2 linked regions of the Homo sapiens genome follow. The protein of the gene in region 2 interacts with the protein of the main gene of each other region in a pairwise test. Each region holds a gene or a part of one and is shown on either strand. Other genes may lie near its edges.

The links.
Region 1: the proteins of GAB2 (region 2) and ARHGAP32 interact in a two-hybrid assay, tested with the Homo sapiens proteins (one study listed by BioGRID).

The regions. Positions count from the first base shown.
Region 1 is NC_000011.10:128,979,111-128,986,409, forward strand, and holds part of ARHGAP32 (rho GTPase-activating protein 32), read right to left. Parts: intron 6,976-7,299; coding exon 6,893-6,975; intron 2,827-6,892; coding exon 2,719-2,826; intron 2,452-2,718; coding exon 2,306-2,451; intron 1,639-2,305; coding exon 1,443-1,638; intron 746-1,442; coding exon of another isoform or gene 739-745; exon of another isoform or gene 1-738. UniProt on the Homo sapiens protein: GTPase-activating protein (GAP) promoting GTP hydrolysis on RHOA, CDC42 and RAC1 small GTPases. May be involved in the differentiation of neuronal cells during the formation of neurite extensions.
Region 2 is NC_000011.10:78,214,621-78,218,947, reverse strand, and holds the end of GAB2 (GRB2-associated-binding protein 2), read left to right. Parts: 3' UTR 1-3,655; downstream 3,656-4,327. UniProt on the Homo sapiens protein: Adapter protein which acts downstream of several membrane receptors including cytokine, antigen, hormone, cell matrix and growth factor receptors to regulate multiple signaling pathways.

The sequences.
Region 1 (7,299 bases), about 51 Mb from region 2:
ATTTTAGTACTAGTAAATATTTTCACAAAGATCATTTTTATATATATCTTCATATTTGGATCCAACCTCACAAACTGAAAAATAAGTGAAAATAAGACGTATCTGGGAATAGGAAATATTAAGTGTCCAAAAATAACACAGAGTTAAAGAAAATGATTTTAGGTGTGAGTAGAGAATAAAGGCAAACAAAGAAGACAAGGATTAAGAATAATAACAAACATATACTGAATGCCAGGCACTGTGCTACCTGCCTTATATGTAATATCTCCTTTAAATCAGATACAACCACATGAGGTAAGTACTATTATTCTCATTTTGCAGCCAAGGAAATTATGACACTAAGAAGTTCAAATAACTTCTTTAACATTATAAAACTATTAAATGATGGAGTCAGAATTGGAACCCAGGCCAATCTACATCCCAGTATCTACTCTCTTAACTACTACTCCATAAATAAATCTTTGAGTAAATTATGGAACTAGAATATAAAATCAAGATGCTAAAGACAAACTCAGGATGACAAAGTAAGAGTATGTTCCAACTTTTTGCTGATAGAATGTTTTTAGTCACAGGAAGTGAAAGGAAGTTAGAGGAGTATACTAAAATACGGGAAGAACAAATTCTAAAGTTATATTAGTACTACCCAATCCAGAGAATCAAAATCCTTACATTCATGTGTAATAGCCAAAGGAGTAGCAGAGACATCAAAAATAACTTTTACATACATTAGTCTTCCTACTATAACCTAGTAAAGAAGATACAGAAACCATGTTATTATCATTTCTTTAGAGTAATAGAATTTCAGAGCTGGAAGGGACATTGAAAGAGTGAACTGCTGCAGTGGTTCTCAAGTCCTAGCAGACATCAGAATCACCTGGAAAGTTAGATGAATGACCAGTTGCTGGGTCCCACGCCCAGGGTTTCTGATTCAGCGGGTCTGGGGTGTGACTGGACGACTGCACAATGTGCACTTCTAGCAATTATCACCAGGTGATGCTGATGCTGTTGGCTGGGAGACCACACTATTAATCTCTTCTAACCTTAATGTGAAACCAATGTCAAACAAGTCACTGTCCATTCCTGACTTTCTGAACAAACTCTTCCAACACAGCTTATTTCTAAACAACTTTATAAACAACATAGTTCAGAGAGCAAAATCAACCCATATAGTGACAGTATATCCTTATTTTTCCAAACAATTTTCCCTATACCACTGATGTTCTTCTTTTATAAAATTACATGACATTGTAAAGCAAGAATCATTTGCATCATTCCCCATGAAGCGGTAAGTATCATCCATATTCGAATAAACAGGTTTCTCTGGGACTAGCCTAGAATTCAATAGAGTAATACTAAAATACAAAATTAAAAGCAAACTAAAAGAAAATAATAGGACATAGCTATGAAAATCATATCCCAAAATAGGATTTAACAAATTTTACCTTTCAAGTGGGAACTCAATTATGGTATGAAATTTCCCCTGAAGTGCAGCAGGTCCTTCTCCTACTTCGATATATTTATTTTCCGTCACAATTGGAGAATTGACCTGAGCTTGTGTTCGTGCCTGGGCCTCTTCCAATGTCAGCAGTTTGGTGGATGGAGAGGATACCAGGAGGGACTTGGGCCTTGATAGAGAAGCTTCAAAAAGAAAAGGAAGCTGATGAAGAGAGTCAACTACGTGAGTGTATTCAATTTGTTAGTATCTATCTCTCCATCTATCTACCTATCTGTTGTTTCAAATTTTCTTCAAGTATGTTAAATAGCAAAAACCATAGTGCTTTATATTAAATGAAAAACTGAAGGGGACATACCAGTGGCACACATACATACATATAAAACCCTTTAATAACTGTTTTCCTTTCTTAAAAGATATGAGAAAAGCTTTATATTAAATAAAAAACTGAAGGGGATACACCAGTGGCACACATACACACATATAAAACTCTTTAATAACTGTTTTCCTTTCTTAAAAGATATGAGGAAAGGTGATCAATCACTCAGATATTTTTAGTTTTGGAAGCAATTTTTCTTCTTCTGTTCCACTTTATACTTTAATACACATCAATAATGAACGACAAGTTTTTTAATGTGTCATGAACTTAGATCACAATAGGTCTCATATGTAGTATTCACTATATACACACAAAATAACTGTCAAATTGTGCATTTTGGTAAGCAGCCATACATTATTAGCTGCCTTATACCAGTGACACGTTTTTGTTGTTGCAATAAGAAATGCATGGTTTGCTACTCCTCTGGAAGCTGAGACACACCCTCCTGGTAGGAAGGGCCATCGGAGCCGTACCTGCCCCCTCTTGCATGGCCATGCTGATTCTGCCGCTGAACAGCACATCAACGTGATTCAGGATGAACTCAACAACCACAGACTGAATCCTCACTTCCATGAAAGCTGCTGTTCCACTGAAGCAGGCAGATTCTATCTGTTTTGATCTGTGAGGTAAACATTTTCATCACAGAGTTGTAAAGATAGCAGTCGTCAAGGGCCTCTTTTTTTAAACGTGTAAATCTCAGACAAACAGAGGAAGAAATCATACTTTTACTGTCCCTTAGCTAAGGCCCAGTTGCCTGTTTTAGGGAGATGCAAATAAAAAGAACAGATTTGTTTAATCTTTTAAAAGTTTCCTTAAAGAACACTGATGAATCAGCCTTTTATTTAGGATTAGTTCTACTAAAATTAATAAGTGAAATGCAAATTACCTTAACAGGTTTGGAGCCCAAACAATTGCTAGATTTTTTGCATGCATATTTGTGATGGAACAATAGTCAGCTAGAAGAGACAAGTGTCTCATCAGGAACTCCAGTGTTCTGGAAATAAAATACAACATATTAACAGAAAGAAACATGATGCAGCAGTATAGAACATAAAAGCCTGCTAATTAATTCCTAAGTTTGCAATAGCAAAATGAAGAAAGGGACCATACAAACCCAAGAGAACTTTTTTTTCCTGCTTAACAGGTTGAAATATTACTATTAGAAGTGAATCTTCCACCAAAGCTAGTTTCTGGAACAAATAATATTTTGAAGTTATGCCATTCTACTTGCAGCAGACATACTAACAGGAAAGGATTTCAACACTTCTATGAAAGAAAACAGTAATGTCTCAAAAGCCTTAAAACAGTTACAAGAAAAATTCCAATAGGCATCAAGGGGAGAATATTTGAGCAAAGGATATGCTTTTGAAATAAAGAGCCTAATTCAAATCCTCATATTCTGGTTTATCTTGACTACTTAAAATTTGCTTTACTTAAACAATTCCACATATATTGTGATTAAACAATAGGGAAGAGTACTTTTGAAAACAAGACATGATCACCTTAAATGTAAGTTAAACCAGGTAAGTGCCGTGTGTGTGTGTGTGTGTGTGTGTGTGTGTGTGTCTGTGCGCATGCACACACAGAGGTATTATCTATCACCTAGCATGTCTCAAAGCGTCCTACCTAATAGTGCCCAGAGTAAAACTACTAAAGACAACGGGCTGGGTGTGATGGCTATTGCCTGTAATCTCAGCAGTCTGGGAGGCTGAGGCAGGCAGATCACTTGAACTCGAGAGTTCAAGACCAGCCTGGGCAACACAGTGAAACCCCATCTCTACAAAAAGTGTAAAAACAATTAGCTGGGTGTGGTGGTGCATGCCTGTAGTGCCAGCTACTCGGGAGGCTGAGGCAGGAGGATTGCTTCAGCCCAGGAAGGTTGAGGCTGCAGTGAGCTGTGATCATGCCACTGCACTCCAGCCTGGGTGACAGAGTGAGACCTTGTCTTTAAAAAAAAAAAAAAAAAAAAAAAAAAGGACAATGAATGGGAGACAGAAATATAAGGCTGTATTATATGAAACAGTAATGAAAGATAAAATGTGGTCTACATCCGAGCCACAAAGATTCAGATGGGCCTAACATGAATTTGAGAGGAAAAGGAATATCATAGTTAGACTCGGCATTAGGCATTGTTCAAGAGGCTTTTACCAGCAGTCTCATTTAATTCTCATAATAGCTCTAACAAGCACAGAATTACCATTCCCCTTGTACCGAGGACAAAGTCAAGGTTGCTGGGGTTCCACAGACTAGCAGTGGCAGTGCTGCATTTCAAATCAAGGTCAGAGTGGCTCCAAAGTGCCTGCGCGTTCAAGGGCATTGTAGTTGCTTTACAGTTAAAATGGTAATTCTCTGTCTCTGCTGTATATAATTAAGAGAAGACAAACCGAAGTGAGGCTGGCCTGGGTATGACATAGAGGTGAGAAGCTTGAGAAACGTATTTAGATCGCAAGGACAAAAAACCAAACACCGCATGTTCTCACTCATAGGTGGGAATTGAACAATGAGATCACATGGACACAAGAAGGGGAACATCACACACCGGGGCCTGTTGTGGGGTGGGGGGAAGGGGGAGGGATAGCATTAGGAGATATACCTAATGTAAATGACGAGTTAATGGGTGCAGCACACCAACATGGCACATGTATACATATGTAACAAACCTGCATATTGTGCACATGTACCCTAAAACTTAAAGTATAATAAAAAAATAAATAAATAAAATAGAATAAAGCCAGGCTCCTCAGCCAAAAAAAAAAGAAAACCATGTAAAATTTTATTACTTGAGGAAGGTGAATGAAGGGAATGATTAAAGGACTTCAGGAATGTATTTTATGAGAATTGCAAATTTAAAAAACCAAAGACATCTATTTGGTTTGCCTATCTGATTATAAGGATGTCTTTAAAAGTTAATGTAGAATTTTAGTCAGGATTCCACAAAATGAGCACTTTTATATTCAGCAGATGAGAGTGTGAATTGTATAAAACTTCGCAACCTGGAACGTAATTTGGATATTATTGTCTAATATTGAGAATAATAATTTAGATTTCCAGAATTTCACTGCCAGGTCATTATCCTGTAATAAAAAACATAATCTAGATACCATGTAAAAGGATGGCCCTCATAGTAATATTCAAAATTGGAAAAGGAAGGCCGGGCACAGTGGCTCACACCTGTAATCCCAGCACTTTGGGATGCTGAGGTGGGTGGATCACCTGAGCTCAGGAGTTTGAGACCAGCCTAGGCAACATGGCAAAACCCCAACTCTACCAAAAATACAAAAAATTAGCTGGGCATGGTGGTGTGTGCCAGTGGTCTCAGCTACTTGGGGGGCTGAGGTGGGAGAATCACTTGAGCCTGGGAGGCAGAGGCTGCAGGGAGCCAAGATTGTGCCACTGCACTCCAGCCTGGGTAACAGAGTGAGACCCTGCCTCAAAAAAAAAAAGGAAATAGAAAACACCCCATACCACCATATATGTAGATTAAATATGCAAATTATGAAAGGTTAAATAACATGGCATATCCAAATGAGAGAACATGATGGAAAATTACGCTTTTCAAGAACATCTAAGGAATTCAGAAATGTTAATGTTAAAATTTTGGATAAAAAGTCTATATCAAAAGATATACAAAGTAGGAGATACACACACATATAAGTTATAGTGAAGAAAAGAGTTACACAAGATATTGTATACATTATAAAGCAGGAGATATACATGTACATATTAATAGCAGGCAAGGTATGAAATCCAGGTAGGGCATACATGGTAAGTAATATAATATATATTAGAAGACAGGCAAAGTGGATAATATTAGGATATATATACATATAAGTATCTATAGTCAAGCTATAAAATAGTGTGCAGAAGATATAAAACATATATGCAGTGTATATTATTGAACATCTATCTGCAAGACTCTATTCTGGAAATACAGTGATAAACAAGACAGAATTCATGACCTCAAGTACCTTATGTTTTAGAAAGATTGTATACAGATAGTCTCCAACTTACAATGGTTCAATTTATGATTTTTTGACGTTTATGATGGTGCAAAGGTGATAAACATTAAACAGAAACCACAATTAGAATTTTTTTTTAAATGGAGTCTCGCTTTGTTGTCCAGCTGGGGTGCAGTGGCATGATCTCGGCTCACTGCAACCTCCACCTCCCAAGTTCAAGTGATTCTCCTGCCTCAGCCCCCGAGTAGCTGGGATTATAGGCGCGTGCTACCATGCCCGGCTAATTTTGTAGTTTTAGTAGAGACGGGGTTTTGCCATGTTGGCCAGGCTGGTCTCAAACTCCTCACCTCAGGTGATCCACCCACCTCGGCCTCCCAAAGTGCTGGGATTACAGGTGTAAGCCATGGCGCCTGGCCTATAGTGCTGATTTTTGAAATATATACATAAGCAATGTCATTTTGAAAAAAAAAATTAAATTACTTAATTTGCATATTACTAGAACATCCGCTGAGTTTAATTTCTTGTCAGTAATTGGAATTTTAAAATGTATCTTTTGTTTCTTTGCATACTGGAATCTAGTTTCTACTGTTGTCTTTTTCTAACTGGCAAAGTAACTTTCAATTTTATTCTGGCTTTCTCAGACATAACCATAAATATTTCCAACACTCCAAACTAACACACAAATCAAATTAGGTTTTAAAATGTAGCAACAACAATAAAACCAAAGAAGAAACTAAAACAAACAAACAAAAAACCCCCAAGTTTAGTCAGCCATCCCTTTGTCCATCCATTCATTCATTCAACCTTTAAGTACCTATGGAATGCTAAACAGTGTGCCAGGCCCTGGGGATCTAAGGACAAATGAATATCTATACATAAACATATACATATACATATAGGTACACATACATATAGTGTGTGTGTGTGTGCGTGTGTGTGTGTGTGTGTGTGTGTGTGTATATATATATATATATATATATATATGAAATGGAAGTTTAATTAGAACTCCAAGGAAGTTTAAATAGAAATCCAAAGGAAAAAAAAACGTTTACAGGTCAACCGACTTCTACCTCTGCCTGGTATTTACCCACTGTGGCTGACCTGTAGTGTGGTGGGGGGAGCTGCTGGATGACATCGTGGATTTTTATCAGCCTTTCTTCATCTGTTGCTGCTGAAACTGCATCCTAGAAGAGTCACAGTACAAAATAAACTAGTGAGCTCTGTTAGTAAAAATGAAAGTTCACTTACAATTCAGTTTTCACTCTGAGATCAACTTGCTTTGCTCTTGGATGTGAAATGGCGAGGAAACACAACATTGTATTCAGGAAGTAAACTGTTTCCACACAGTGTGAACACTGAGATCTACGAAACTAATTTTAAAAAGGCTTGATGGTCATCAGTATTAAGTGTGACAAGACTAGCAGCTCAAAGTCAGAAAGCACAAGAATGACAATGTGAAAACAGCAAAGACCACCGACTAGCTGGCAATATTTGTTTTTTTAAGGAGT
Region 2 (4,327 bases):
TGGAGGGAAGGGCTGGGGCTCTGAGCCAGATTCCACACCTCACGTTCAGTCACAGCCCTCAGCTATCTTCCCTCCGGCCACTGGGCTACCTCTCCTTCAGTCCCAGAAGACAAGTCTCACCAACCCAGGGAGTCAAGGACCAGCAAACCAAAGTGGATAATGGACTTTTTCATTCCTGTTTTTCTTGGCAGGAGAGAAGCAAGGCCACTAAAAGAGGAGATGGTGGAGACGGAGGCTCAGCAGTGGTCTTGAGGGGTAAAGGACTTAGATGCCCAGATGAAGAGGGAAAGCTGACATCTGCAGGGAACCCACTTTGAGGCTGAGGCCATGGCAGGACAGCTGCTGTGGGGTGCAGAGGCAGAAGATGAAGGACAAAAGGAAGGGAAAACTGATGGCCAACCTAGAGCAGCAAGGAGCAGGGCTTGGAGCTCGGGTGGTGGAGATGACAAGGACACTGTGGGGTCTGGGTCCCCAGAACTCTGGAGCTACAGGCCACTCTAGGCCCAAGGGCTAGTCCTCTTCCCCAGTCCCCTCAGAGGCCCCCGCCAGCCCCACCTTGAAAGCAGCATACAGGGGAAGGCTTGGACCAAGCTGGGCGACCAAGCACATGGGGCAGGAACACATGGTAAAGGGGTGGGGAATATGGGAGGGAGTGTGGTGTGGATGGGGGTGATGCAGGGACTGAGGGGAACCCTGGGACAGGCACAGGCTGGGCAGAGGCACAGGGCAGTGCAGGGGACTCTGCAGTGGGGTCGGGAAGTGAGTTTCTTTGCAGTGAGCAGTGCAGTGGAAGTCGGGCACAGAGGTAGCAGACAGATGTGAAGCAGTGGTGAAGGCCATGTAGCAAGTGGGGAAATACATCCAAAGGGCCTGGGAGTTGGGGGGTGCCCAACGCAATCCTTGGGGGTGCAGGGTGGAGCAGAAAGTGAAGGAGGGACACGTGCAAGAGTGGTGTGCATGGTGGTGTGACATGAGGACCGTTCCTAGGATGGGACAGTGGGTCAGGCAGGACAAGGAGAAAGCAGGGCAGAATGATGCCTAGAGGACCACATCAGGCATGGCTGACAGCTTGTGCCCATGGGCTGTGGCGTATGTCAGATCGCAGGGTAGGAACGAGTCTGGCCTGGTGCCGGCCCAGTGTTTCCTCAGCTCATCCGCCCTCTGTTGCTCCCTAGCATTCCAGGAGCCATCTTGGACTCTCCTCCCCAGGTTTGAAAGGCCATCAGATTAGCAGGGACGGGGTGTAGGGCATCACCCAAGGTTCCTTCTCTTAAACTAAGGGTGGGGGATCTGAATGTTTTTATGTTGACTGTTCTTGACTAAATTTTCAAGAGTTTCAGAAGCAACAGGACAGACCAGACGTTTCATTCTACCCTGGGGCGAACAGAACTTCTTCCTCCCAAACAATGACTTCCTGCCATGTTTGATGGGGACAGCTACCACTGTCCTCTGCCCCCATTCCCCTTTCAGCTCCCATGAGCATGCATAGTTCACCAGACCAATGGCCTAGCCATTCTCTAAGTCCCATCCTGGAAGAAGTTATTTCTTCAAGAGCTGCACCTCTCCTCCTAGCATTAGTTTAGATCAACTCAAGGAGTATTTATTAATGGCTGCTGTCTCCAGTTTCTGGGGTTAAGCACTAAGGACACAAGAATCAATCAGACCTTCTCCCTGAACTTAAGATAGCCACAATCAGAAAAAGGACAAGGACATGAGACAGTGGTGATGGCCATCAGACAGAGACTTCAAATGCTGATGGAGGGCAGAGGAAGTACTTAGGGAGGTTGGTGTCAGAGGCAGGAGTGGGGGATCAGGGAAGGTGGATTCTAGGAAAAGGGAGTGCCTGAGGTAGGCCTTAGAAGGGGATGAGTCAGATTTTTACAGAGGAGGAGGGCAGGGCTTGGGTCCAGTGGAGGAAGAAGGAAGGAGAGGCTTGGAAAGCCTTGTGTCTTGGGAACAAAAGGCCTTTGAGCATATGGGTCCAGCCACTCAGAAGTGTAGGGGCCATGCCTTGGTGTTCCAATAAGTGAATGGAAGCAGTGGTGGTAGCTACACTGGGCAGAGTTGGCAGGGTGCTGGTTCACTCTGCCCAGCCCTGAATGTGTGCCTTAAAGGCCCCCTACAAGGGGCCCCATACGACAGAGCTTTTAACTGGTGCCTTCCCTGTACCCGCAGCAGCCACAAGTGGGCCCAGACTATTGCAGCCTCCCATAAACATGTGAGCATGTTCTGAGTGTGCCATGATGTGAGTGGACCTGGCTGGAATCTTCGGAGAGCGACTGAGGTGTTCAAATCGAATCTCCCAGGAGGCTTCCTTCCAGCCCCCTATTCTGGTAACTACCAGGAGGCTTCCTTCCAGCCCCCTATTCTGGTAACTACCAAAATCCCTCGGGTGCAAGTGTAGGGGTAGAGATGGAAGGATGAGAGGTGAAATTGACCTTTTGAAAGCAAAGCTCTGGCTCACAGGCCCCAAACTACCAGCCGTATCTAGCATATCCCCACCCTCCACCCACTACCTCCTCCAACAAAGGAGTCAACTCAGTTGAAAAAACTGGTCCTTTGGCCTATCCATGGGTCAAAGTCCACCTCTCCTGGGGGCCTGGAGAGGACTGAGCCTACGGAAAGGGGATACCTTCCCACTCAGCACTGCTTCACACAGGCCCCCTGCCTGGGGCTCTCCAAGGAGCCTTCTTCACCCACTTCCAGCTCCACTTCTGCAAGGTTAAGTCAAGTGAGAACGATGAGAAATAGGGAGATGGTGTCTCCTTAAGTCCTTGATCTGCCTGTCTGTGGAATGGGAGGTTGGATTAGCTGCGCTGAGGTCCCATCCACAGCTGGTGCTCAGCTGCTTGAAGGGGAGACTCCCTCCTCTGTAACTTCTTTCTGGGGGATTGGGGTGGGCAGTACCTATCCCCAGTCCCCTCCTAGCTTGACTTTAGTGGTTTCCAATGTAGAAGTTAACAAAGTATGCCCCATTCCTGTGACAAAAGCACAACCATTCTGAAGTTACTGGAGCATGGGCTCAGCTCATCCTCCCTCTGGCCCCTTCTCCCATGGGGACATCTCGGCCCAGCACCCCTATCCCATTTCCAGAGTTCTTCCTTCCCCATCTGGGCCTTCATAAAATGCAGGGGAAGCCAGACTGGTCTCAGGAGCGCTAAAGCCCTTCCGTGGGGGGTCGTCTTTCTGGGACTAGCCCTGCTGTTTAGGACCTGGGACCACAATGGGGTACCTGCCGAGGGGGTCCCCAAGAGATCCAGGCTGTCATGTGATTTATGGTGGCATGTGTTGTGTATTTGTTGGCTACTTGTGTCTTGAAATCTAGAATTATTTCACGCAGAATTGTCACTGTTTGTCAGGAAGAGAAAATGGGCTAGTGGAAGCCCAGTCTTGAGTTCTTGTCTTGTTACCATTTAAAATTGACATTTAATTTTCAAATCACTGTTGGTGCCTAATCACTTAAGTTATTAATTTATTCTGTTGTATTCTTTTTTTTAAATTGTAACATATTTATCCGGTGGGTGGGACAGGAGTGTGTTCAAGTGGGTCATGTTTTTGCTGTGGTGACACATGGTACAGGCTTGGAGCTTGCAGGTCCCTTTCTACTGTGGTGTTGGAGCAGGACAATAAAGTCCACTAGAAATGCACCCCAGAACCAGCTGCCGTGTCCATCTTGTCTTGAGGGGCTTGGTGGTGGAACCCGTTCTCACTCCAGTCTGTTCCAATTTTTGCTTTATTTGGAAATAATTGGGTATTTTTCTTGGCTGTGAATAAGAACAAATGCTCTCTACCTCAGCGTCTGTTGTAAAGTGGAAATCATACTAGCATTTACCCATCCAGCTTTCTTAGGCGTCTAGAGATGGGTTCTGGGCGTGTCTGTCTGCTGCTTTCACAGGTCACTTAGATGTGACATCTTGAGGGTCTGTGACATTGGGCCCAAACTCCACACCACCATCACAGCAGGCAGCCCCTGGGGAAGGAGGTAGGTAAAGGCTTGAGAGCTGCCTCCCAGGTGCATCCTCTCCACGGGCAGCATCACCCAGCCCTCAGTAAGGTAAGTAAGTCAGTCAGTCCACACGTTTACTTACACCCCACTTCAGTAGATTCAGTAGAGGGCTCTTGGCTCCCTGTGGCATCTCACACGTCACTGGGGGGCAGGCTGAGTCCTGGCCTCCCCAGACCCCGTGAGCAAAACCCAGTGGCCATCACAGCCCCTGAGTCCAAGGAAGAACAATCTCTTGCTTAGGCTTACTTTTATTTATTTATGAACATGGGTGTCTGTCTTGTCTTCGGTTAGAAGTTAGAAGGGGGCTACAGCAGTGTCAGG